2 separate regions of the Homo sapiens genome follow, and region 2 is linked to region 1. Evidence: fine-mapped expression QTL. Tissue or cell type: esophagus mucosa. Region 1 holds a variant in brackets; the other region holds the start of a gene. All regions are shown on one strand. Distances are between the middles of the regions. Region 1 has its middle 54 kb from the start of NEO1. Region 2 holds the start of NEO1 (neogenin 1).

The links. PIP is the estimated chance that this variant, and not a neighbour inherited with it, causes the effect.
Region 2: NEO1 starts here. The variant in region 1 is fine-mapped to the expression of NEO1 in esophagus mucosa (GTEx, PIP 0.97).

What each region holds. Positions count from the first base shown.
Region 1 is chr15:72,996,751-72,999,654 of GRCh38, forward strand. No RefSeq gene overlaps it. Among named protein-coding and RNA genes, the nearest start is that of NEO1, 54 kb to the right of the region's middle. The variant G/A (reference allele first, on the strand shown) is at 1,610.
Region 2 is chr15:73,051,261-73,054,164 of GRCh38, forward strand. It overlaps NEO1 (neogenin 1), which reads left to right and starts at 1,203. Exons shown (of 29, transcript NM_002499.4): 1 at 1,203-1,545. The coding sequence starts at 1,416. RefSeq lists silencers at 323-372, 433-502, 593-912, 1,143-1,522.

The sequences.
Region 1 (2,904 bases):
AGCTACTGGGGAGGCTGAGGCACGATAATCGCTTGAACCCAGGAGGCGGAGGTTGCAGTGAGCCGAGATTATGCCACTGCACTCCAGCCTGGGCAAACAGAGTGAGACTGTCTCAAACAAAACAAAACAAACAAACAAACCAACAAACAAAAAAGTTGTCTGGAGCAGTTCTCAGGAGAAGAGATGATTGTCTGTCTTGGCGTGGTGTCCAGTCTCCTCTCCTGTGATTGGAGTTAATCTTCCCATGTTGATAAGATTCCCAGAGAGCAGATTCATGATAATTGAGTTTTTTTTTTGGAGTATCCGTCTTTAGGCAGATAAGGGGTCTCAGGGAAAACCTCTGCCTGCATTCGCTGTTCCCCAAGTGCTCTCTGTTCAAAGTAATCAGCACAGCAAAGTGGCATATTTTGGGGTAGCATTTCTGGAACTCCTTCCTTCAAGTGTAACTAACACTTCCAGGGGGAATGTTTGATAAGCCATGTCCCAAGGGAGGGGAGATGGAACCTGTTTGCCAAAACAACAGGGAATTACATAAGGGGAAGCCAGTGTTCACTCTCTAAAACCTTAATTTTTAGATTCTGGAAGGAGAGAGGGGAAGGTTACTTCCTGAGCTGTGAAGAGGTTCAGACCCTTCTCTAAAAAGGGTTCTGGGAGAGAAAGAGGCTCCCAGGCCTGTCTACACAGCCCAGTGGTGATGAAGAAAAATGTATTTTCCTTTGACACACCCCTTTGAGTGGTCTTATAAGGTTTGCTTTGTATTTGGTGAGGCAAATATTGGCAAAGAAGTTGATTTGGTTTTTGTTTTGTTTTTAAGATGAAAAGCAAAATCTTAAAAACCAGAGCTTTAAAAAGCCTGGAAGAAAATATGCCAAAATATTATAACACTTGATTTTGGATGGTAGACGGATGAGTGGGGTTTTTCCCTCTTCTTTTTACTTCAGGCTTTTCAAAAATTTTACAGTCATATCTTATCATTTTTATAATATAAAATGTAAGTTTATCTAACATTTAAAATTAAAGGTTTAGAATTTTAAAATAAAGATATGAGCATGTATTTAAACATGCTTGGGTCACCTACCTCAGCTGAGAGCTTTCTCCTGTCAGTTTCTAACACTAAACCTTAATGAAGAAGGTAGGAAATCAGTTGACTTACACTTCTCACTTTGACATTTTTAAATCTTAGGGGATATTTGTATGCAAACAGGAATGCGAGCTATGGTTGGCAGAATTTATTTCTACCTGCGGAACATTCCCACCTGAATCTCCAGTATTCCTCTGCAATTTTCAGAGCAGAGAGAATCAAAGCCATTAAAAAGCTGACTGTGACATCAGGCTGAAGAGAGGCACAGATGTCCTCCCCAGAAACACTACTTGCTCTTACCCAGGCAACAGAGGCTTGAGGACTAACCTTGTAAATTACCTGGCATGTGTAAGTAACAATGTTTGCAAGAAAGTCTTTCAACCTTTTTTTTTTTCCCCAAGACAGTACTGGTGGCTCTTTCAAGTTCCAATTATAAATTTCCAAATCCCAGACACTTGGGTGCCAGGCTGAAACAGGGACTGCTCGTGCTAAGACTTGTAGTAAATTGCAACAGTGTGGGAAGTGGGC[G/A]GTTTGTTTCCCAGAGTTCAAGCAGGGACTGTAACTGCCAGTGCCATCTCTTTGAGATGCTTCGTGCCCGGGGCTCCTAGCTCTTCCAGGTTGGGAAATAGCTCTCATACCCGGAAGAGGCTGGCCAGAGGAGTGACCAGCAGGAGACAGAACTCAGGCCTGAGGGCTCTAGGTTCACCAATATAAAAGTAACTGCTTAATGTGGCTTCCAGCTATGAGAAGAATATAAATGAACACCGCGTTCTTCCAAAGGCCTCTAATCTGAGACACCCAGGGATGATACATATGTATGTGTTAAATTTATCTACAAAGAGTCAGGACTTGTGGATGTCCCTTTACGGCTTACAAGCCGAAATGTGTGCAGCAATGGAAGTTAACTTCACAGATATTGTCTTGTTTCAGACAAAAGGTCACTGGGCTGTCACTGAGAGACTCGGTGAGGAAAAAAAGATGGTGCAAAACGCCTCAGGATGGCAGCATCTTGACTTGGGTAAACACCAGTGTACCGCGTGTCTTCTGCATGCCTATACACGTATGTCTATACCTCAGTCAGATGAAGAGCACCACAAAACTGGTATTTAAGTGATTAAGTGTATTTGAAATTTTATTGATTCTAGAAGAGGCAGCATATGAAAAGAGACTGGGCAAGCAGAAAGGAGTCTGTAGGCTGCAAATGAGAGAAGGATGTACTGTCTCTGTGGGTGACTGGGAAGTGCTGGGCGTGGAGAGAAATATTTGAATTAGCCACCACCCAAATACGATAAGCCAGATGAAATACGGCTGCTGGCTCGCCTGAATGTGGCAATTCCAAAGGTGTGGAGGCAAATCTCACTGTACAAACTGCCCCCTCACAGGTTGGCAGCAAGACCCATAATTCAGAAAAAAGGAGATGACGTCAGAAAGACCCTCGCCTCCAAAATACAGCCTCTCAGGTCAGAGGGAAGGCACAACCTTCTTCCTAACACATCAGAGGGTTTCCTGAAGCAGTCAGCGAGAGACACGTCGGCACTCGGGAAAATGCAGATGCCTGGACTTCTAATACCTGGGATTCCAGGCAGGAAAGGACAGCTTGGATTTTGATATAGACGGTACCACTTGAACTGGGAATGAACCGGTCCTAGAGCAGGTTTCTTAGGAGAAAAGGCTCTAAAAACAAACAAAAACCCTGAGAGAAGATGGTCATCCTTTCAAGAGGCATCTACAAGAGTTGTAACACTAACTAGATGTGAGGCCTGGGCAAGGGCACAGAGAGATCATGACTAGCAGGAAAAATGCAAGATAATGTGGGACACAGG
Region 2 (2,904 bases), 55 kb after region 1:
AATCATACAAATAAATTTTCTTTAAAAATTTTTCATGGGTGCAGTATATAAAATGATCAATAGTCTCATCAGCAGTGGAACTACAAACTGCTTTCTCCTAACTTTGTGTAGCCTGGGTGCTGCCTCACGATTACTAAGTGGTTTAAAATCATATCCCACTTGCTCCTTGGTTTATCAGCGAAAGACGTGATTCCCAGGTAGGAAAACGCCAAGTGTCCCGCAAAGGTACAGGTAAAACGTAGCAGTTACTGCGAGAAGACTGGCCCCGGGGAGTCCCAGGGCTCGGTCGGGGCCCCCGCACGAGCTGAGGAAGTGGACAGCGGGCACCTTTGTCTGTGCCTAGTTCCCTGGACCCGGGCCGAGCGATGCGGGTGGGGGCGCGGTTCGGGCGGGTCCCGGCGCTGCCCGGGGGAAGCGCGCGGCGACGGCGGCCCGGCTTGGGAGCCGGAGGTCAGCGGCTGCGCGGCCGGCCCCCTCCCACGGGAGCCGCGCCAGGGCCCAGCAAGAGTCGGGCGGGATCGCTATTGTTTTTGGCGAGCACATAAATCCCCGGGCCGACCCACTGCGCACCCAGGTTTCCTCCCGGAGGCCTTTCGGTTTCCTCTGAGGCCCTATATAGAGGCTCCAGGCCCGGACTGTGCAGAGGTGCGCGCCCACGCCGGCCTCCCGGACCAGCCTGAGCTCGGAGCGCCTCTCGCCCTCAGGTCTCTGCAGCCAGAGGCATCTGGGGAGGTGAGGGGGGAATTTGTCCCCGAGGCGAGGAGGAGGAGGCGGGGGCGCGCGGAGCCGAGGGGCTGCGGCGAGCGGGCGGGAGGAGCAGGAGGATCCGCTTCTCCGGGGTTTCCCTGACGCCAGCAGCAGCGCCCGGCGCGCGCGCCCCGCACCCGTCAGCGGCTCCGGGGAGAAGGGGGAGGGGAGCGGGCCCGCCACGGCCCGAGAGGCGGCAGCCGGGATTGGAGCGGGGGCGGGCCGCGCGCGGAGCCGAGGGGGTGCGGGCGAGGCGCGCGCGTGCGCGTGTGCGCGCCCGGGACTCCCGCCCCCCGCCCCCGCCCCCGCCCCCGCCGTCCGCGGTCTCCGCCCCCCTCGCGCTGGTGTGTGGAGCCGGAGTCGGCGGCGGGTGGCGGCGCCTGGAACCTGGAGACCGACCCACCGCCCCCCCCCCCCCGCCCCGGAATGTACTGACTCCCCTTCTTCGCTCTCCTCCCCTCCCCGCCCCCTTGCAGGAGGGAGGCGCCCTGGAGTCTCCCCTCCAGCGAGAGGGGCTGCGCGGGCCGGGCCGGGCCGGGCTGGGCTGGAGCAGCGGCGGCCGCGGGAGCCGAGCTTGCAGCGAGGGACCGGCTGAGGCGCGCGGGAGGGAAGGAGGCAAGGGCTCCGCGGCGCTGTCGCCGCCGCTGCCGCTCACTCTCGGGGAAGAGATGGCGGCGGAGCGGGGAGCCCGGCGACTCCTCAGCACCCCCTCCTTCTGGCTCTACTGCCTGCTGCTGCTCGGGCGCCGGGCGCCGGGCGCCGCGGCCGCCAGGAGCGGCTCCGCGCCGCAGTCCCCAGGTAAGCGGCGGGCGCGGGCCCGGGGGTTCGCGGGGGCGCGGCACCGGCTCAGGCGGCCGCGGCTGCGGTGTTTTTGTTTAGGATCCAGGAGGAAACGTGCAGGAACTTCTCTGCCTCGGCTCCGGTTGCCGAAGAGAAAGGGGATCGCGCGTGGTGGGGAGGAGAAGGGCGAGAGGGGGCGCCACCGGGGAAGGGGCGGCTGCCGGGGGGCAGGTCGGGGGCGCAGGGGTCTAGTTCCCAGCTTTGTACCTGGAGGCAGGTTCACCCCTCGCCTCTCTCCCCTCCCCCAGGCTCATCCCACTTGTAAGAGTGGGACATTCTTGTGCTCACACTAGCACCAGTAGAGGCCACTACACACCTCATTAAATAAACAATCAGACGGCCAATTCATTAATTTTCAGGAAAGGAAAGGGGAGGGGGCTTGAGCTCCTGGTTCCCTGGCCAGGGATTTCCCAGCTTCCGAAGTCTCGAGGAAGAGCTGGCTAGTCTCGAGGGACTCCTCGCGCGGGGATTGGAGCCCGAGTCTGCGGAAGAGCGGGGGTGTCAGAGGGGCACAATTGCCCGCTCACAACCCCTGGTGTTGATTTAACGATGAGGACGCCTTGGAGAGCGGCTCGGAGTGATCGTATCTGTTAGTGTTTCCGTTATGAAATGCCTCTTCTTTCCTGGGGATTACAACTATATTTACAGCCTATTAACCACTCTTAACCAAGGGAATTGTCTAAGCATCAGATTTTAGGTACTTGTACAATGTTTTCAGATGGCATTGTATAAACATTGAACCTCAAAAGCCATTTTCAGTTCTTTTTTGGAATATTATAGATTACTGAAACCACCTGCATTCCTATTAAGGGGACCAACGAACAAAAATGCCAAGCCTTCCGGGAAGGACCTTACGGTATTGTTGAGCAGGATACACTCAGCAGTTGAAAGGCAAATTAGCATGTAATCTGTTAAAATTATTTGACCAAGGTGGTGTACCATAAAACTTGACAAAACTTTCACTCGTGTGAGATATGATATTTTTACATTTGAAAGCAGTCTTACCGCTGAACCAGTACTTGTTTTTCCCTGATTTATATGAAATAATATTTAAAATCACACTGCAAGGTAACTTGACTGATAAACTTTTCATTTCCTTGCAGAGTGTGTATGTAGCTCATGGCTTTTGCCAATGTTAAAGAACAGCTTTAAACGTAAAGTACCACTCGGTATTCTCTAAACAGCTACGTAAACAATAGTGTTTTAATGTCAAATTAAACATCACTTATGTCATGATGTACCCTTATACATTCAGTCCGTATATGGTTTAGAACACATTTTGGTGCTGAAATGCAGGTTACTGATCCAACTGTCTCT